Regions from separate parts of the Homo sapiens genome. Here all the other regions are linked to region 1. Evidence: fine-mapped QTL for protein levels in blood plasma. A gene starts in region 1. Each other region holds a variant in brackets. All regions are shown on one strand. Distances are from middle to middle. Region 1 holds the start of TGFBR3 (transforming growth factor beta receptor 3). Region 2 has its middle 120 kb from the start of CDC7. Region 3 overlaps TGFBR3 (transforming growth factor beta receptor 3).

Evidence for each region. PIP is the posterior inclusion probability: the model's chance that the variant is causal. Protein levels are from antibody-based Olink assays in UK Biobank. Linkage for the fine-mapping came from a reference panel and not from the study's own genotypes, which makes the PIPs less certain.
Region 2: its variant is fine-mapped to the plasma level of the TGFBR3 protein (UK Biobank, PIP 0.99).
Region 3: its variant is fine-mapped to the plasma level of the TGFBR3 protein (UK Biobank, PIP above 0.99). The variant lies in the coding sequence of TGFBR3. If it changes the protein, the assay may bind it differently, which can mimic a change of level.

Annotation. Positions count from the first base shown.
Region 1 is chr1:91,882,568-91,889,979 of GRCh38, forward strand. TGFBR3 (transforming growth factor beta receptor 3) reads right to left here and starts at 3,584. Exons shown (of 17, transcript NM_003243.5): 1 at 3,311-3,584. RefSeq lists enhancers at 2,392-3,155, 3,156-3,918 and silencers at 3,061-3,270, 3,281-3,360, 3,711-3,850.
Region 2 is chr1:91,621,630-91,629,041 of GRCh38, forward strand. No RefSeq gene overlaps it. Among named protein-coding and RNA genes, the nearest start is that of CDC7, 120 kb to the left of the region's middle. The variant T/C (reference allele first, on the strand shown) is at 3,284.
Region 3 is chr1:91,730,692-91,738,103 of GRCh38, forward strand. TGFBR3 (transforming growth factor beta receptor 3) reads right to left here. Exons shown (of 17, transcript NM_003243.5): 5 at 4,085-4,268. Among named protein-coding and RNA genes, the nearest start is that of TGFBR3, 150 kb to the right of the region's middle. RefSeq lists enhancers at 1,841-2,135, 6,064-7,263. The variant T/C (reference allele first, on the strand shown) is at 4,189.

The DNA.
Region 1 (7,412 bases):
CCCCGTCTCTACTAAAAATACAAAAAAATTAGCCGGGCATGGTGGCGAGTGCCTGTAGTTACAGCTGCTGGGGAGGCTGAGGCAGGAGAATGGCGTGAACCTGGGAGGTGGAGCTTGCAGTGAGCTGAGATTGCACCACTGCACTCCCGCCCGGGCGACAGAGCGAGAGACTCCATCTCAAAAAATAAATAAATAAATAGATAAATGTCAAGTGTGATTTTTTCAAGCATATTCTTATTGTTTATGTTTACAAGTATGAGTATTCATAGACACATCACACTTATACTAGTATCAAATATGATACATCTGAACTACTACTATACTTGAATATTAACGTAAGCCTCTGAGGAATTCACAGTAATAGAACTGCTGTTATTTAGGATTACTGATCCCCTATTGTCTTGCACTTAGAAGATGTTAATGAAAGATGATGACAGGATTGTGAACACACCAACCTCCCTGAGAACAAATTCATTATATTCAGTTTTCTACAAAACACAAATGAGGATCATTACAAAAGGATTCACAACAAATTCCTCTGGATTTCCATTTCTCCCAGGTAAGTTGAAATATTATTCAAACCACACAAAATTAGTTTACATACAAACTTCACTTTTTAAAGAGATGGGGGTCTCACTATGTTACCCAGGCTGGTCTCGAACTCCTTGGCCAAGTGATCCTCCTACCTCAGCCTCCCAAAGTGTTGGAATTACAGGTGTGAGCCACTGTGCCTGGCCTACACACCACTTAAGGAAACAAATTGAAAAAAAACTATATGTGTGTTTATCTATCTGTCCAGCCACCATGGAGTTCTTGACATATATTCAACATACAGGCCCTGTCCTCAAGGTCATTCTTAATCAGTTCAAATTAAATCTAGTCCTCCATTATAAACTCCAAAAGCAACTTAGTTATTTTGCTAGATATTTTGCCCTCCCCTTTCAAACTATATGTTTAATACTCTAAAAACGGGTTTATGCGCCTTATAGATATCAACAGTGTGTTATGCTCCCCCTATTGACTAATATTCAAAATAACAATGAACTCCCCACGGGTTGCCTTTGAAGTGCTGGGATTCAAAACTATGTTGGTGATTTTTATATTTAAAAACATGAGCTGAATCAACAGTTGTTAGGCAAAGCTGCCGTGTAACGGTCAGATTCCATCAAAACAGGAAAAATTAAAGTTGACAAATGTCAAACTGAAGGGCCAAAAAAAAAAAACGCTCAAGCCTTGAAACACTAAACAATGCAGAAATAAAGCCAAAAGCAAAGAACAGCAAGAAATAGAGCAACATCCTTTAACTGACACAATGGCATGAAATCAATTTCATGTTAATAGCCCTTAAGGGGGTAAGAATTATTTCCCTGCCTCCTGTGCCAACCCCAAGCTGTTTCCTAAGGAAGCCAAGTAATGGTGATCAACAATGTCTGGAGAATTAATAAAAGAAATTAAGAATAAAGATCCATGTTGGCCAGGCGTGGTGGCTCACACCTGTAATCCCAGCACTTTGGGAGGCCGAGGCAGGTGGATCACGAGGTCAAGAAATCGAGACCATCCTGGCCAACATGGTGAAACGCCGTCTCTACTAAAAATACAAAAGTTAGCTGGGCGTGGTAGCGCGCGCCTGTAGTCCCAGCTACTCTGGAGGCTGAGTCAGGAGAAACTCTTGAACCCGGGAGGTGGAGGTTGCAGTGAGCCGAGATCGCACCACTGCACTGCAGCCTGGGGACAGAGCGAGACTCTGTCACCAAAAAAAAAAAAAAATTTCCATGTTAATTAATACAAGTCAGAGTTCTATTTATAATTATTTGGGGCCAGTTTCAGAGGAACTTTAATTGGGCACCCTCATAAGTATGTAAAATCGCCTAAATTCATCACAGATACCTTATGTGTGTTTCAAGAGATATGCGTTCAGCTCAAATAGAAAGCTGAAAGATGGGAGAAGATGCATGGACTATGCACACAAATCTATGTACACACAAATCGGCCTGCACTTGCCGCTCTCCGCTGAGGAAGGAAGGTAGCTTTGGAGTCAGAACTAACAGAAAGTTATGTATGATCTTGGACAAGTAACTTAACCTCTAGTGTCTTATCTGTAAAATAGGGTTATTAATAGTGCTTTTCCCATAGAGATGCTGTGAGGATTAAGTGCACACAGTATGGGCTTAGAAAACGTTAGCTGTTATTATTATCCAAAAGAAACAACTGAGTTCACACTGAAGTAACTGTTTGCACTCTGCATTCAGGAAGAAGAAACGGTCTTGACGTGTGTTTTTACTACCTGTGGAGACTTCTCCCAAACCGCTCACTTCTTCGGAAGGACATAAAACTCAGAATACGCCTGGTTCCCCAGCACAGCCTGTCACTCCTACTATCCTCTGCCCTCGCCGCTCCTATCCTGCCACCGCAGGGCTAGCGGCAAGCAGCGCTAACCTCCGTGCGGTGCTTACTCGGTGCCAAGCACTGTTGTAGCACCTCACACACATTAAATCATTAGATGCTCACAGCAACTTTACGGGGCAAGTACTACTATCCTCACTTCACAGCTAGGGAAATGGAACGGTTTTCTTCTTCCAGCTTTTCGTGAGGACACCAAATCCACTAAGTTCTACTTTGCCAAGGTAATTCATGCTTGACACGTCGGCTCCTGACACTATGCGATTCTGCAAAGCGGGGCAAATGCCCTAATAAGATCAAGTCTGCAAGCAGATTCTTCTAGCGACAGTCCAAGATTTCCAAGTTTGTCCTAACCAAATGAATACAAGAAGAGAGCCTTCAAAATAAACCGGGGCGGGGGGGGGCCGAGCTGCAGCTTGCGGCTCAGCCCGCAAGGCACCCTGAGGGCGCGGCCAGCGGGGAACGCAAACCGCGTCCGTGCACGAGTCCGGGAGCCACAGCCTGGGCCACGGCAATTGACTGCGAACCCACAACAAACCATTCCCACCGAAGCTGTCACGCGCCCGGAGGGAAGTGGCCGCCGCGCCCCGCAGGGGTCAGAAGGACCCGCGGAGAGGAAGAGTGAGGGCGGGCGTGGAGAATTCCTCCCCAGCACTGCGCATCGCCGGGGGCACTGCCTGCCCCGTGCGGCCGCTGCCCACGCACCGCTGGCCACCGGTGCCTGCTCCCCGGAGGGTAAACACCGCCCCACCAGCGCCTCCCTCCCAAGGCCGGAGGTCCTGGCGGCTGGAGCGACCCTGGCCGGTAAGTAGGCACTGGCAGCCCGCGCCGCGCCGACGGGCACCCGCGCAGCCTGCAGAGCCCACAGCCCGGGCGGGCTGCAGCGCCGCGGGGCTGGGCCGGCACGTACCTCGGAGGCGGTGTGTCCAGCGGAGATCCACCCGCAGCAAGTTGGAGGAAAGCGGCGGCAAGTTTCCCCGCCCAGCGCTCGGCGGCGGCGAGCTCCGGCAGCTGCTGCGCCGCGGCAAAACTACGCCATCCGGACCCGCTGGGGACTCTCACCTCCTGCAGGGAGCTCCGGGAATCGCGCAGGGAAAGTGGCCGGGGCGCGAGAGCCGCCGACTGCCCTCCTTCACTCGCTGGGAAGAGGAAAGTGCCGCTCGGCGTCCCCGAAACCCTCGATTACCCCCATCAGGCCGACCCGGCGCACTCGCCCTCCCTCGCACACACGCGGGCGGGGACGGGCAGGACGCCACAGCAATCAGCGCGCGGGGGGAAGGGCGCTCCTCCGCCGGCCCCACCGGGGGCTCTCGGCCGCCCAGAAACTCCTCCTCCCGCCTCCCGCCTCCCGCCTCCTCTCTCCTCCCCCTTTGCCTCCGCGGCTGATGGATGAGCCCCGAATGCTGCTCGAGCCTGTGCTTCCCTTCGGGACGAGGAGGCCGAGAGAGAAGGGGCTAGGGGCGCGGCCGGGCTCAGCGTGCCCGGGTTGGGGCGGCCCCTGTCCTGGGGGAAGCGCGAGGGAGACGTGGGCACGAGCTGCGGGGACTCGCTCCCTCAAACGAGGTCCTTTGAACTTTCCAGGGCTCCCTGGAAGAGTTGGATTTTCATTTGGTTCCTTGGTCTTTATATAAAAGTTCTGAAACCTCAGATAATCTGATCACAGCCTCTTGCCCTCTCCCCAGCAGAGCTCCCCCATGCACACATTCATTCTGTCCCTGTGCTTTTTCCCAACCTCCGGTCCCGCTTGTTGTCACGCTCTGATGGTGGGCGCCGGCGGAGTCTTGCCTCTTCCCCTCCAGCAGCTGAGACTGCATTACCCAGCCGTTCCCCCTGCTAGCTAAATAAATTAATACAAATAATGGAGCTAGGTCAGCATTACCGGCGTTACCCGGAGGTGGGCGCGATATGAACGACAGTCTCGGCGGGGCAACGTCCTAAGTACCTGTGCCTGTGCGACGTCCTAAGTACCTGTGCCTGTGAAGTACACGCTGCAGAAGTTGAACTGCTGGCACCAGAACACCACTCTGATACTCTTGCTTACACCCAGTTTTTCTTATTAAAAAGTATACTTAAGTAACAGGACATTGTTTTACAAACAGGCAGGTGAAATGACCGTGGACTGACAGGTTTCAAAGACCAGACTTCCAGTCCTGACTACTGTGCGACCTTCCACAAATGGCTAACGGCTAATACCCGTCAAGGCTCAGTTCAAATGAAGGGCTTGGCCTAGAAGGCTTCTTCCAGTTCTAAAGGGCTATGGACCTATGCCTTTTTTTTTTTTTTTTTTTTTTTTTTTGAGATGGAGTCTCGCCCTGTCGCCCAGGCTGGAGTGCAGTGGCACAATCTCAATCTCAGCTCGCTACAACCTCCGCTTCTCAGGCTCAAGCGATTCTCCCACCTCAGCCTCCTGAGTAGCTGGGATTACTGACAAATGCCACCACGCCCAGCTAACTTTTTGTATTTTTTGTAGAGGGGGTTGGCAGGGCGGGGGTCTCACTTAGTTGCCCAGGCTGGTCTCAAACTCCTGAGCTCAAGAGATTCGCCTGCCTTGGCCTCCCAAAGTGCTGGGATTAGAGGCGTTAGCCGCTGCACCTGGCTCAATCCTAGGCTTTTAATATGTTGGAGAGTAGAATGAGGAGGCTTCTTATGACATGTTATTTGGAAAGTTATTGAGAGAACAGGAAATATTTCTCGTCCTCTTCCTCTTGTACCTATAGGCAGAGAATCCACCCAATTGCAGAATTGGAGATTCATTCACAAAGGTCAAATGTCATCAGTCACCTGAATTACTGCAAAAATCTCCTCACTGAACCATTTTTTTCCTTACCAATATTCATTGAGCACTGACTATGGGAGAGCCCTGAGTCAGGCATTGGGAATACAAGTAGGCATAATATTCTGAAGGAATAAACAGTCCAGATGGAGCTAGCCTCTGCTTTTATAAAGTCTAAGTTTAAGGCCTTAAGATTTCTCCTAGACTCAAATTAAACAGTATTTGATATGGTTTGGCTGTGTCCCCACCCAAATCTCATCTCGAATTGTAAGTCCCACAATCCCCATGTGTCCTAGGAGGAACCCAATGGGAGGTAATTGAATCTTGGGGATGAGTTTTTCCTGTGCTGTTCTCATGATAGTGAATAAGTCTCACGAGATCTGATGGCTTTAAAAACAGGAGTCTCCGTGTACCAGCTCTCTCTGCCTGCTGCCATCCACGTGATATGTGACTTGCTCCTCCTTACCTTCTGCCATGATTGTGAGGTCTCCCCAGCCATGTGGAACTGTAAGTCCAATAAACCTTTCCTTTGTAAATTGCCCAGTCTCGGGTATGTCTTTATCAGCAGCATGAAAACAGACTAATACAGTATTTATGCCTTGTTAACAAGTTTTAGTTTCAAGTACAGATGTGAACACTTGAACTAGGTGTGAATATTTAATCCCACATTTAAATGCATCGGCCAGGTGAGGTGGCTCATGCCTATAATCTCAGCAATTTGGGAAGCCGAGGTGGGTGGATCACTTGAGGTCAGGAGTTCTAGACCAGCCTGACCAACATGGTGAAACCCCATCTCAACTAAAATACAAAAATTAGCCAGGCATGGTGGCGGGCACCTGTAATCCCAGCTACTTGGGAGGCTGAGGCAAGAGAATCGTTTGAACCCAGGAGGCAGAGGTTGCAGTGAGCTGAGATGGTGCCATTGCACTCTAGCCTGGACAAGAGCAACACTCTGTCTCAAAAAAATAAAATTAAATTAAATGTATCAATCATGTTAAGGCCTTCTAAATAAAATGGCCTGGTAGATAATTTAGGAGTGTCTTGTCTTTAAAGAGTGATGAAGTGACTGGTCCCCGTAGAGCCAGATTCACAACAGTAACCATCAACATCTGAGCCAGCGTGGGTACTGAATTCTTTTTTGTTTGTTTGTTTTTGTTTTGAGACAGAGTCTCGCTCTGCTGCCGAGGCTGGAGTGCAGTGGCGCAATCTCAGCTCACTGCAACCTCTGCCTCCTGGGCTCAAGCAATTCTCCTGCCTCAGCCTCCTGAGTAGCTGGGATTGACAAGCACGCACCACCATGCCTGGCTAATTTTTGTATTTTTAGTAGAGACGGGGTTTCATACCATGTTGGCCAGGCTGCTCTCGAACTCCTGACCTCAAGTGATCCACCCGCCTTGGCCTCCCAAACTGCTGAGATTACAGGCATGAGCCACTGCGCCTGGCCATGGGTACTAAATTCTATACATATAAACACATTTACTTCTCACAGCCCTCTAAGAATATGTATAAATGAGGCCGATATACATGCCTTTATACAAACTGAGATCTTGTCCACGATTCAATCTCACATCCACCGACCTCAAAACCTGTCCACGATTCAATCTCACATCCACCGACCTCAAAACCTAAGTCCTTAACCACCAGGTTCTTCTACCTGTCATCAGAAGCTTTATAGACTGGCAAAATAAAAGGGCTCTTTTTTTTAATTCTGAGCTATTTAGTTTCAGTAGATGATATGGAAAAACACAAGAAATTACATCAGTATTTACAAAATTAACAATGTCTACAGAGATGTTTTCTCTTTAAATCTTTACAATATGATATTAAAAGCAGAAATCCAGATACCTCAAGCATAGACGAAAGGTTTAAAATAAACTTGAATTTTTGGTTCCTGAGCAAAGCTCTATAAAAAAGGGTTCCCCTACCTCTTTTCTTTCTTTCTTTCTTTTTTGAGACGGAGTTTCCCTCTTGTTGCCCAGACTAGAGTGCAGCAGCGCGATCTCAGCTCACTGCAACCCCCACCCCCACCTCCCAGGTTCAAGTGATTCTCATGCCTCAGCCTCTCAAGTAGCTGGGATTACCAGCACCCACCACCATGCCTGGTTGATATTTGTATTTTCAGTAGAGACAGGGTTTTGCCATAACTCCTGACCTCAAGTGATCCACCCACCTTGGCCTCCCACAGTGTTGGGATTACAGGCGTGAGCTGCCGTGCCCAGTTGCCCAACCTCTTATTAAT
Region 2 (7,412 bases), 260 kb before region 1:
TTTTCTCACTCTTAACTAGAGACACCTAGCAGGAGACAGGCTCATCTTCTCTTGCACTGCCATGTCCAGGAACTGCTGCAATCATCTCACAGCCATGAAGGGAGCTGGCTTGAGGACCCCCCCAATATATCTAGGATGGCAAAGCCAGAAGATGAAAAGAACCTGGGTCATTGCTGAAATTGTTGATTAGCTAAATTAACCAAACCTGGATCTGCAGTGTGACACTAGATGTATTTATTATTTAATACAAATGAGTCCAAATTTTCTGTCATTTACAGCCAAAAGCATCCTAAGTGACACAGTGCTGCAGTGTTAACTTAGCTATTCCTCCACTCGCTAGAGTCTAAGCAGTAGAGTCTACTGTTTCCACCTCTCTTTCAGTGCCAAGAAACATTTCTTGAGCCATATCCTTTAACCCACAGTTCATATGGAATCTCTTGCCTGATTTGATGGTCACTTATAACAATAACTGGTGCTGTTCTTGTCCAGATTTTTCTAACAATGGCTAAGCTTATTACATAGTGAAGATCCTGTGCCAAGAAAATTACTGAACAACTGTTCTTTTCTCTCCCTCTCCACAAAAGGAGTATTGCGTAGAATAACATAAATGAACTTTTTCATTGCTAAAGAACTTGAGAAATGGCTTTTGTGCATCTTTAAGTCTCATGTTAAATGACCTAACTCACTGAAATTTTTTTTAATGATGAAAGATAATAAATCACTTAGGGACTGACAATACATATCATTAAGTGCCTCTTCCTAAATTATTTGACCTATGAATATAAATGGCACTTAAAAATCAGCATATATTATCTCAACTATGTAAACGCATAGGAAAAAAACTAAAAAAAAAATTCACTAAATTGTTTCTGGTGATTTTGCACGTTGGGGCATGGTGATTATTATTTTCTTCTTTAAACTTACAAACACTGTATTCACTTTTGTCTGTCTTTTCTTTGTTTTATGAGTGCATGACCTTCCTTGACCCAGGAAGTACATGGCACCACCTCATTTTCCTAAAAGAGCAAAGTGGACCATTCCCCCTCCTCTCAGCTCTTCAGGGCAAGTATATTTTCTTTCCCAATTCAGATTTCCCTGAATTAGATTTACAACTTCTATTTCTAGCAAGATCTCCCACGCCAAGGCTGCAGAGTTGGCACCCCTCCCTCTGGCACCCTTGATGCGTTCACATGATCCAGACTTCTTCTACAGAGACTGTCCTACAATGGGCACCAAGTTCTGCCTATTTCGCCTCTGAGCTAATTCCCTCCAATAACTAGTTTCTTGATACTCCCCTTTGGAATCATTTTCCTGGCTTCTTTCCTGGATTACTTCTTTCATCCTGCCTAGAAACCCTTTATTCTTTGTGGTCAATTGAAGGGCAAAGGGGACATCCTCTAAGCCTTTCATCCTTATCCAAATGGGAGATTACCTTGCATTCATAGCATTCAAAATGTAAGACCCCTCAGGCGAGAAGATTGGCCTAGCACACAGGGCGTGTAGTTCAACTTGACAGTTCAGTGACCATGTGTACTTCTTAGATCAATGTGGTCCCAGGAAACTACCATGGCAAACTGCCTATTAGTTCTGCCTGTTCACTGTCAAGATCTCTCAGGAAAAGTGCTCTTAACTCTCTCCTGGTACATTTGTACCTGGAGGGCAGATTGAATTGACTTTGATCACTTGACATTCTGGCTCCTTACAAGTCTCTCTCTCCTTATCCTCCACAAGACACTGATCATCATTTGATTCCAAGATTGGTAGGACCCCTCTACCTGGGCAGATCCCAACTGTAACAGATACAAATAATCCTTTGTTTTGAAGATGGCTATTTTGATGTAGAGGAACAGAGGCTTGACTCAAATTAACTAAAGAAAAAGGGAATCAATTTTTAAAGATAAACATGAGGCAAAGGGGGATCAGAAATGGCATAAGAATTCAAGGACAGGTACCATAGTATGGCTGGGCACCAGGGGAAATCTGCAACTAGCAGAGACCACTCTCTCTAGGCATCTACCTATCTCTGGCAATGACCGCTCCATTCTCCTCCCTAACTGACCAGCTTTCTCTGCTTACCCATTCTTTCAAATTCCTCTAACTTTGGAATGCCTGTGGCTTGTGAGGGCCACTCAGGCCCCAGCCTAATGGCAACTCTTGATATAGAGATTTGGCTTTTGCCTTCAGTGTTCATTGGTCTAGTTTTAGAAAAGCTGCAATTTAAAAATAAATGTTTCAATTATAGAATTTAACACACAACACATACACACTACAGTAGAATACTAAAGCCCCACATACCCATCACCCAACTTCCAATTACTAATACTTTTCTTCTAAACTTCTGTCAAACTATGCATCTGACAAAGGTCTAATATCCAGCATCTATAAAAAGCCTGTGCAAATTTACAAGAAAAAAAAAACACTAAAAAGTTGGCAAAGGACATGAACAGAAGAAGACATACATAAGGCCAAAAAGCATATGAAGAAAAGCTCAATATCACTGACCATTAGAGAAATGCAAATCAAAACCGCAATGAGATACCATCTCACACCAATCAGAATGGCTATTAGTAAAAAGTCAAAAAATAACAGATGCTGGCAAGGTTGTGGAGAAAAGGGAAGACTTATATACACTGTTAGGCGTGTAAATTAGTCCAACTATTGTGGAAAGCAGTGTGGTATTCCTCATACAGCTAAAAACAGAACTGCCATTCAACCCAGCAATCCCATTACTGGATATATACCCAAAGGAATATAAGTCATTCTATCATAAAGACACATGCATGTGTGCATGTTCGTTGCAGCACTATTCACAATGGCCAAGATGTGGAATCAACCTAAATGCCCACCAATGTGGGCTGGATAAAGAAAATGTGGTATATATACATCATGGAATATCATGCAGCCATAAAAAAGAAAAAGATCATATCGTTTGCAGGAACACGGACAGAGCTGGAGGCCATTATCCTTAGCAAACTAATGCAGGAAAAGAAAACCAAGTACTGTGTGTTTTCACTTATAAGTGGGAGCTAAATGATGAGAACACATGGACAACTCGAACAACACACACTGGGGCCTACCTAAGAATGAAGGGTGGGAGGAGGGAGAGGAGCAGGAAAAAATAACTATTGAGTACTAGGTTTAGTACCTGGGTGACTAAATAATCTGTGCAACAAACAAATGCCCATGACACAAGTTTACCCATATAACAAACCTGCACATGTACCCCTGAATCTAAAATAAAAGGTTTTTTTAAATAAAAATAAACTTCTGTTTACCTCTCTCT[T/C]TTTTTTTTTTTATTTTAAAGCAAATCCCAGAAATCGTTTCATTTCACTTGTAAATACTTCTATTCAATTTCCGTATTTAAAGTCATTAGACCCTTTCAATCAGAAAGGAATCTGATTAGCCTGCCTCACCATTGTAAGCCCAGGCATACAAATGATCACTGGGCAGTCCATGGACTGGATGTCTTTGGATCAGGTGATCAACCCAGTTCAATCAAGAGTGGCTAGGCGGAACTGTGTTCATTATCACCAAATAACTGTGATGACACTGCTTCTCCACAAAGCCAACAGTTTTCAGTATAAGGAGGAATAGGCCTGGTACACACTGCACAACCTTGTTAAATCATCCCCAGATCACTGAGTTATCCACCAGGGCTGGGGCTAAGGTGAGGCAAAGGGGGGACTTGCTTCAGGCACAAAATTTAGGGGGAGCCAAAACGTTCAGTAATCAAGATAAATAACATTTTAATGCAATCCTTTAATGAATCAAAATTACTTTTAGAAAATCCACAGTGAAGAAAATATCAAAATGTTAAATAAGGACAGAAGTTGTCTACAAAAGTAATAAACTTGCTGCAGTGAATGACTGTCTTGTGTATTCAGGTACTTTACATACGTTAGAGCATTAACTCCTCATAACCCCATAAGAAAGGTTATGATTAGCTAGTCTTAGGAAAATTCTTGACATAAAATTGCATTTCAATCTATTCTTGGATAAAAAAGCATTTATTGGTGAAGTTAAATGTAAGGTATCAGAAACTCCATAGAGACTCCTACAAAAAAGTAACCATATTCTCCTTTTTTAAAACATCTTTTTCTCTTTTCCCAGTATGCCCAGTTCAACCATCTAACTTGCTTAGAAAAACAAGACTTTTCCAAGAGAAACAACATTTAAATCAAATAAAATCCTTACAACAACAGTGTTTTTAAACGTGATTGTTTCAAGATTCTGATATGCCCGACAGGCTGAGTTTTGAAACTTCGAGTTGGGACGCTTTATCACTCAGGGGACCGCTTCTTCAGGGGAATTTTATAGCTGCACTTTGAAAGTTGCAGGGAGAGGGTTTTTTGCCTTTGAGCTGTGATATCTCTTCAACAAAAAGGGGGTTTTCATTATTATTATTTACAGTGAAACCTAGTGACAGGCAGCTACTATTAATCATTCACTTATTCACCATTGGGGGTCCTCATGGTTTACAGCACTATGCTTGGGACACAACTACAAAATAAGATAACCAAAGTCCCTGCTTTCGTGGGACTCACATTTGGTTTTGTATTGTTTTGTTTTGTTTTTTACTTTTTTTTCCCTTAAACTCAGTGGGAAGAATGACCTTTGATTTTTAGTATTATGATAGGGCTTAGCATGGCATGTTGCATTTAGGACCTAATTTTCTTATATTAAAAAAATGTTAATTTGTGCAATTATAAGAAAAATGGGAAATACATTCAACTTCAACTAAAGTCTGAACGCACTAGAATATCCCCAAGTCAGTAACAATCCTTAGACCTATGTTACCATTCTCCTAAACATTCTAGCCCATTAATGGCTTATTAATCCCCTAGCTAAACATTTAATAACTAACAAATTTGCTTGTGCCACATGGTTTGTGTGAATTTAAAAATCCTATGATTTTTCCCTTTCTTCTAAACTGCTTTTCCGAAAACCATTCAAGAAACCAATAAGGAGTTAGGTGAACTCTGCCCTTTATGATCTTATCATAGAAATGAATAAGGGTGGCTAATTTAATGACAACTTTAACCTCCTTTTCAAATTATTTCTGCCCATAAAAATGTTTTTATATGGTACCAGATAACTCCCAGCTGCTCTATGTGCTGAGACATGCCTTTTCTGGTAATACCATAGGACTCCAATGGTACAATCACAATACACAGAGATACTCTCCCTGACTTTCCAGATCTTCGACAGTTCTTAGGAGCTGGGCCTAGCACTGCTGGAACTACCTTTCATTAAAATACTACTGGTTCTATAGTTTATATTACTCCCTTTAAAATCTTACTAATTTCCAGACACTTGTTTTCCTGAATAAAAATGTCTCAAGGCTCCATAGTCACATACTACCTTTGCATTAAAATGCAATTGCAGCTAAAATCAGGAATGAAAGCAGGACATCACTACTGATCTTAGAAAAACAAAAGGGATTATAATGTAATATTATAAACAACTGTATATCAACAAAATAGACAACTTAGATGAAATGGACAAATTTCCAGAAAGACACATACTACAGAAACGGACTCAGGAAGAAGTAGAAAACCTGAATAGGCCTGTCAGGCCTCTGAGCCCAAGCTAAGCCATCATATCCCCTGTGACCTGCACGTATATATCCAGATGGCCTGAAGCAACTGAAGATCCACAGAAGAAGTGAAAATAGCCTTAACCGATGACATTCCACCATTGTGATTTGTTTCTGCCCCACCCTAACTGATCAATATACTTTGCAATCTCCCCTGTCCTTAAGAAGGTTCTTTGTAATCTCCCCCACGCTTAAGAAGGTTCTTTGGAATTCTCCTCACCCTTGAGAATGTACTTTGTGAGATCCACCCCCTGCCCCCAAAACATTGCTCCTAACTCCACCGCCTATCCCAAAACCTGTAAGAACTGATGATAATCCCACCACCCTTTGCTGACTCTCTTTTCGGACTCAGCCTGCCTGCACCCAGGTGAAATAAACAGCCATGTTGCTCACACAAAGCCTGTTTGGGGGTCTCTTCACAGGAACACGTAAGACAAGACCGATAACAAGTAAAGAGACTAAATTCGTAATTTTAAAACTTCTCCTAAAAAAATGTCCAGGTTGTCAGGCTGGGCGCCGTGGCTCACGCCTGTAATCCCAGCAGTTTGGGAGGCCGAGGCGGGCAGATCACAAGGTCAGGAGATCGAGACCATCCTGGCTAACACGGTGAAACCCCGTCTCTACTAAAAATACAAAAAATTAGCCGGACGAGGTGGCGGGTGCCTGTATTCTCAGCTACTCGGGAGGCTGAGGCAGGAGAATGGCGTGAACCCAGGAGGCGGAGCTTGCAGTGAACCGAGATCGCACCACCGCGCTCCAGCCTGGGCAACAGAGCCAGACTCCGTCTCAAAAAAGAAAAAAAAAAGGTTCCAGGTCCTGATGCCTTTAAACTGATGAATTCTACCAACCATTTAAAGAATAATTAAAACCAATCTTTCACAAACTTTTTTAGAAAATAGGAGAGAAGCGGCCAGGTGCGGTGGGTCACGCCTGTAATCCCAGCACTTTGGGAGGCCTAGGTGGGCGGATCACGAGGTCAGGAGATGGAGATCATCCTGGCTAACACGGTGAAACCCCGTCTCTACTAAAAAATACAAAAAAAATTAGCTGGGCATGGTGGCGGGTGCCTGTTGTCCCAGCTACTCGGGAGGCTGAGGCAGAAGAATGGCGTGAACCTGGGAAGCGGAGCTTGCAGTGAACCGAGATCGCACCACTGCACTCCAGCCTGGGCGACAGAGCGAGACTCCATCTCAAAAAAAAAAAAAAAAAAAAAAAAAAGAAAGACAATAAGAGAGAATACTCCCAAATATGTTATGTAAAGGCAGCATTACCCTGATACCACACCAAACAAAGACATCACGAGAAAACTACAGACCAATATCTCTTATGAATATAGACACAAAAATCCTCAGTAAAATACTAACAAATCAAATCCAGCAATTTGTAAAGAAGATTATATACCATGACCAAGTGGGATTTATCCTAGAAATGCAAGGTTGGTCTAACATCAGAGAATCAATTTATGTAAGATACCATATCAACAAAATAAAAACAAAAATTAGTCCTGGTGTGGTGGTTCATGCCTGTAATCTCAGCACTTTGGGAGGCCAAGACAGGAGGATTGCATGAGCCCAGAAGGTAGAGGCTGCAGTGAGTTATGATACCCCATCTCTAAAACAACAACCAAAAAAAAAATTTAAAACTAATTAGATGATCATCCCAACAGATGCAGAAAAAGCGTTTGACAAGATCCAACACCCATTCATGATAAAAATATTTAACAGTTTGGGAATAGAAGGTAACTTCCTCAACCTGCTAAAGACTATCCACAAAAGACTGACAGCTAACATCATACTTTGAATAAAAGACTGACTGT
Region 3 (7,412 bases), 150 kb before region 1:
TCCGACACCCCATGTAGAATTAATCTTTCCCTCATATGTATTCCTCACAGCACTTTATACTCTGAAGATGAAAGGTAGGAATTTGGGGGAAATAAAGAAGGCAGACTTTCACTCTTTCTCACAATCTGAACACAGACAACTCAAGTTTATATGGCACTTTACAGTTTACAAAGTGCTTTCGCAAACATTATCTCACTGTGCTGAGAGTTGCTCACCACCTCCACCCGGGAAAGTGATGCAAGTACCAGAATCTGAAGACACTCCCACAACGGCACATGCCATTTACACAGCACGGCGGCTGATGGGATTTCCATCCACGGGCTTAAATATTTCAACAGAACTTGAAAGAAACTGCTGGCAGTGTGACAGCTGGGACCAGTGTCAAGGAAGTTCTAGGTGTAGCATGCTTTTTTCAGAAGGGATAATTAATCAGAGGCCTGGCACTACTATAAAACAGACTTCTGCCTTTTCCATTTTGAGGACAGGATGCCAGGGTTCAAGTCCACATGGAAGTCTCACTTTGGAGTAAGGAATCCAACCAGGGGGTCCCAAGACTGGGTTGATACTGTCCCTCCCCCTCCCCACTTGTGCAACCTCCCTTGTGCTGAGGTCCGCAGCACACACTGGGGCATCATGGCTCTGGCCACCACAGCACCCCCAGCACCACCCCAGAACAAAGGGGACCAAAGCCTCTGTTTGTCGGCTCGTTGCGAGAGAGCATTGGGTTTGCACTCTGCAGTCTCCTCTAATTCCCCTCCCCCTCAGAGAGAAAAGCTCAAGGCTCCACTGACTCAGGCTGCTAGAGCAGCCTCCCTCCACATCTGCTGAGGGTTTTGCCAGATGAGCAAATGAGGTATGCACACCGTGCAGCTGCAGCCCTGCGGATGCCTCCCCCACATCACAGGATGGAAAATGATATTGGAACGGCAAGGTTGAAATTTAATTAAGAAAGAGCGTCTATGGGCCAGGGACAGGACAGTCTGGAACTCAAGAGACTAGGGCCCTCCTGGGATTGTGGCCGGCATATCCAGTTCATAGGTGTGCCTGGCTTGTATCTGGCACATAGTGGGCATATGGTATAGGTTTCCTGAATTAACAAACAATGATGTGAGATTTGAGACAAATAACAAAATATTCACTCATGTGAAGCCACTAGGAAAGGTCTAATTGTTCAAAAGTTGATGTTATTAAGGGCTCTAGTCCCAGAAGCCATTGTCACTAAGTTGAATAAGCTGACCACTTTTGTTGTGTGTGGTTTCTCCCCCGCTCCCCAATGACTTTCCGAATGCCTGGCATCAAAACTTATACCGAGTGCCAAGTAGAAAGGAAACCACAAAGGGGAATTCCCGGGTAGAAACCTGGCAAGTTTGGGGGCAGGGGGAGTCACATGCTTATTTGTATTTTAGGGAAAGATTGACAAATGACTTTGAGACACAGAAGGATATACTCTGAGAGCAGGAATGAACCTGGGGGGTAATGCAAACACCTCATTTTCCTGCTGTGGAAACTGAGGCTCTGGTGGTAAGTCAATGTTGCTTGAAGCCTCGCAGCAAGACCAGCTGGGATAAGAGCAAAACTCTTAAATTCTTTCATTCTGGGTATATAGATGAGAGCAGTTCCCAAACGTCAGCAAGCATCAGATCTCCTAAAGGGCTGATTGAAACACTGACTGCTGGGTCCCACCCCCAGAGTTCCTGATTCAGTTGGTCTGGGTTGGGCCTGAGAACTGGCATTTCCATCAAGTCCCCAAGTGATGCGGATGCTGCTGGGGCAAAAACCACACTCTGAGAACTGCTCGGGTTAGAGCAACCAGGCCTCATGGCCTGCGATCGCTGGGTACAAGAAAGGTAGAGCCAGGTCGGATTCTGGGAAGTGGGGGATGAAGCTTGCTCAGTGCAGTCTGAGCCGTGGTGATAAACATATCACTTTATGGTCCACTGACCTCACCAAGGAACCTCCTTTCCCTACTGCTCCTCTCTCCACGGCATGGCCCGGTGACTCATACTCAACTGGTGGCTGGAGTCAAGTTTCAGGGGTTCCGAAGGTGTTACCAAGGAGTTAACAGTTTTTACTGCACCAGACACAAGGTCCTTTAAGTTGGCTTCCCCTACCCAGTGTGCACAGGCTGAACCAGTTAAGTGACAACCCGTGGCTCTCAGGGTAAGTGACTACTGTGCTTAGAAAGAAGCTCATGCACTGCCGAGAGAACACAGTCCAACATTCTAAATGTTATTATAACAAATTTTCTTATTCTAACAAATTCCAAGGGGTAATCAACATTCTTTCATGCTACTAGAATTCTGCTTCAGAAACGCGGCCCGCTGGCCAGGGCTTAGAGTCTTTATTAAAAGAAATTTTTCATTTTGTCTCAATGGGATTTGACCTCTGTTATTAGCTACCTATCATGAGAGTACAGAAACAAACTTAGACTTTTTGAGCCCAGCCCTCCTCTAAGTCCCCTTCTCTCTGCCTCAACTAAACAAGGATGTTCATCCAGGTGGACCACTTCCCTTTTTGAGTTATGCTTATTTGGCTAGGACTTAAAGTACAGCTCAGGCAACAAGCGTTAAACTCAAGAGTCAGGAAGCCTGGGTTTGTGTTCTGGCTTTGTCACTTGTTAGTAACTTGGATGTGAGCAGGTTCACTTAGCCCTCCACTAAGCCCTCTGTAAAACGGTGGAAATGACATCTTCCTCCTGGGGTTACTGTGGGGTTAAGTGGGATGCACGTGAAGGCCCCTGAAATGGCTTCTGCACGTAGCATCCTCTCCGACGTCCACGTCCACCTTTCCTGCCTCTGTCTCTCACACACTTTAAAGCAGCCCAGATCCAAATAAGAGTTGGGATCAAGTGTTCACTAACCCACCCTTCCCTGTCTTGTCTATGAGGAGGTGACAGCTGCTGTAGAATTTAACAGAAAGCAGCTGGATGCTGAAGACCTTAAACGCAGTGTTCACACAATCAGCCAGCTATAACAAGGACCCATTCACAAGAGTTATTTCCTAGTAACTTATGGGGGTTCCAAATATACTCAACTGAAAATAATGATTTTTAAAAAAAGGTCTGGCCAGGTGCGGTGGCTCATGCCTGTAATCCCAGCACTTTGAGAGAACAAGGGAGGAGGATCTCTTAACCAGCAGTTCAAAACCAGCCTGGGCAACACAGCAAGACCTGTGTCTACAAAAAATTGTAAAAATTAGCCAGGTATGATGGCATATGCCTGTAGTCCCAGCTTCTTGGGAGACTGAAGCAGGAGAATCACTTGAGCCCTGCAGGTTGAGGCTGCAGTGAGCACTGATCGCACCACTGCACTCCAGCCTGGGCAACAGAGCAAGACCCTGTTGAAGGAAGGAAGGGAGGGAGAGAGGGAGGGAGGGAGGGAGGGAGGAAAAGAATGAAAGAATGAAAGAATGAGAAAGAAAGAGAAGGTTTTTTGTTTTTGTTTTTGTTTTAAAAAAGGCTTTCAAAACTGGGTTTCTGGATATTTCTATCCCTTTGCAATGCAAGGAAATTTAAATAGGCAATCTCTTATCAAGACCCTACACTTCTTTTCTCCAATAATTTGTCCTTGTAATAGTCATTTGTACTAAAAATATATTTAAATACTTTTCCTTTGCTATTGTCCAAAATGTAACCTATGTCTCAGCACCACAAACTGACACAGGCTTCAAACGTTTGCAGAACACAGGTAAGAGGAAGCCACCTGCTGACCCATTCATTCTGCCAGCTCTTCCACTCCATCAGTCATCACCTCCTTCCCACACCCTCAGCTTCTCACCTCCACTTACTTTTTTTGACTTCTGTGCATGGGTGTCTTCTAAATCCCACACAACAACCTTCTCCTCTCTCCCCCTGCTCCTCCCTGTGTTTCACTTGGCCATAACCAGGCCTGCTTCCCCAGGAGGAAAAAAGAAGGGAGGGAATATGGGGGGCGGTGGAGAGGCCTGGGGCCAAATGACCCCTCAGGTCCCTTCCAGGTCCAACATTCTGTAATTCTGTGATTCCTTGCCCTAACCACCTGGTTTCAGAAAAGAAAACAATTGCCTGTCATAAATCAGTCATTAACTGAAGCCACATAAAATTTACCTTCCCCCACTTTAATATAAATGTTTCTTGCTATCTTGAGTTCGGTGAATGAAGTAACTGCTCCATACTCTTTTCGGGCCCAATTTAACAGATGTTCATTTCCA[T/C]GGGGGAAGTTCCTTTCTTCTGTTTCTGCTGTCAAGGAGAAGTTTGCTGATGAAAACTGGACCACAGAACCCTCAGACACCTAGAGGAAAGAGAATTGCGTATTTAACATGGTGCAGTCACCGGAGCTGAATCATAATTAGAGAAAGTACTTCTCAAATCGAAGTGCTTGTAAATCGAACCTCTTCCCTTTGTTATACAAGCAGATCAGCGTTTTTAAGCAGCGGATTCAAGGAATAATCCCAAGCCTAGTCCTCCCAGACAAAGGCAAAACTACCAATGCAGGATGTCCCTCTGAACTCTGAAAGAACCTTGTGAGGACGGACTGCATTGCACATTGAGTAATCGTAAGAATTATCACTGCTATTTCCAAGAAATCTAAATCGAAGACCAATCTTACAATGAATGTATTTCAAGTCAAGTGGGAAGCCTTGATGAATGTTCTCGTGGGCTTATAAAAAGCTTCAGGATCAAGACAAGTGATCCCAAAGTCCTGCTAGCAACTGATCACGACTTTCAGGTCTTCCACAGTTGCAGCATCTGCCAACAGAGTCATCACAATAGGGAAACAGCGAGAGTCCTCTTGGTTTATGTTCACCTCAGCACTGAGATAAAAATGGCCAAAGGTTGCCAGCCTTTCTATCACATTGCTCTATTTCATAAGAGTGAGATGAATGTTTGTAACAGTTTATTGTGTAAGACCCCCAAATTCCCATAGATAATGAAGTCAAGAGGCTGTTAAACTGATCTAATAAAACTTTCAGGATGACGTATGCAAGTACCTCATTCTTGCTGAATGTATTTAGACCACTGCTGACCTAGCATATCATGGTATATGTGTAATTAACACATCCAAAGGAGGAAAATCATCATCTTGTTGCTGTGCTATAATCAAATTTAGTTGCTGGTGAAAATATGTATGCCATTTTTGTTGGCTAGCATTTATAAAATAACTGATTTTTTCAATGTCAGAGTGAAACCTCAAAATGTGGGCAAGAAGGCTCACAAATTCTCAGGTCATAGAACTATAAATGTCTTGTATTAAATTTCACATGAACCATTTATTCATAACGAAAAGCATGCAGTTTCTGAAGTAAGACTAAGAAGCAAGTCGAGGGCAGGGATTTTATTAGTGGTTCTATCACAGCAGCATTTTTAACACACACAAAATTATATTTTCCCAGCTACTGTGCTAGGCATTAATATTTTCTATACAATTATATAAACGTATCTTCTAAAAACGCTGGCAAAAAAAAGTACTTCAATTAATTGATTCCATGACCTACTAATGTTGCAAGCTGAAAACTAGAATCACCTGAAAAGTTTCTAGATATCCTGATGCCCGGGCCACACAGATGGTACAGAGCTACATGTTCCACTCTGGTTTTGTTTATAACTGGCATCAGGACATTCAGAAATGATCGTGACTACACTTGACAGCACTGATACGTAGTAAGTGTGCAGTCAGTGGTAGCTGTGTAGAACTACACAGGGCTCTGTGGAAGCCCTGAATTAATCACTAATAAACTCGGTGTAAACCAAAGCTACTCACAACAGCTACCACTGACTGCACACTTACTACGTATCAGTGCTGTCAAGTGTAGTCACGATCATTTCTGAATGTCCTGATGCCAGTTATAAACAAAACCAGAGGGGAACATGTAGCTCTAACCTTGTTTTGACGTCGCCTGAATAAGAAAAAAATCCTAGGTCATTTTCCTGCCAAAAAATAACCATGCCCACCTAAGTGTAACTTCTCTGAGGCTTAGCTACTCATCAACACTGAACTTCCAACAATGTTTATCTAATTTTTTGACTTTTGCACTGTAGTAAAATCTTCCTTTCACTTGTACTAAAAAGGCATTTTTATCAAGGCTGTCACCAAAACCCACAACAGTCCAGAGGCCTTTGTCCCACTGCCAGCACAGTTCTGAATGTTTAGACGAGAAACCCTGGATGTTCTGCTTCTTGTTTCTCATTCATGTTGTGGCCATAAACTACAGCAACCCTATATACATTATACACAGAGTACGTTTTTCAGAGCGGAAAGCGGGATGTCACACTGGTGCATTCCAGAGGCAAGAAAGCAAACAGCACAAATACAGAAGATATCAACGGCAACTCCGAATTGTGTCCTGAAGTAATTAAAGAGCGATGCCGTGATGAAGCTGGTGATGGGGCTGATTCGTGGAGGAGGAACAACTCCCTCTGCTCCCTCCAGGCATTGTTGTCCTCACGGGCCAGCAGCAATAAGCTTCATACACTCAGGGCTGAGGAATTTGGAACTGGAGTTAACTGCCACTCCTCAGGCACATTCCAATAAGAAGAAAGCAAAGCTGCAGTGAGGTGTCCCTGACTGCAGGTCAGTGGAAATTTTCAGCTTCAGCAAGGAGTGAGCTAGCACTCCCCTCCTGACTGCCAGCTCTCCTGACCCTGACAAGGCTACAGCTGAGTTTTAGAAGGTGTTGTTTTAGAAGGTATTGTTCAGATGTTATTTCCATCTGATTTGCGGAACTGTGAGGCAGGCTACGGTGACCTCTACAGCAGAAAAGCGGAAACCTCAGAGAGTCTAATGGCCTACCCAAGGCCAGAGAGTCATGCACCAGGCCCAGACCAGAACTTAAGACTTCTGACTCCTGGTCACAGCTGGCCTCTGCTTGCACCCTTCCAGAAAGAAGACCTCACTAGCTCCCAAGACAGCAGATTTCTGTTCTGTTAGATTCATTTTTTATACACTAGTCTGAGCCATGCCTACTAGAACAAAGAATTCCTTCGTCTTTCTTCCATGAGACAAGACTTCAGGTGTTTAAAGGTGTCATCTGACCTCAATCACATGTTTGCTTTTTCAGGGCAACACCCCTAGCTTCTTCAGTTCTGCCCCAGATACCCTGGTTGTCAGAGCGTCAACAGGATAGTCTCTGAAAGACGGTGTCGGGACAAGATTCAAGGTCTCCAGGTATGGTCTGAGAAGCATACTGTGATGGTTCATTTTATGTGTCAACTTGACTGGGCCACAGGTGCCCAGATATTTGGCCAAACATTATTCTGGGTATTTTGGTGAGGATGCATTTGGATGAGATTTAAATGTTAGTACATTGAGTAGGGCAGATTTCTCTCCCTGACATGTATGGGTTCATCCAATCAGTTGAAGGCCTGAATAGAACAAAAAGCTGACTCTCTCACAAGTAAGAATTCTACCTGATGGCTTTCAAACTGGAACATCAGC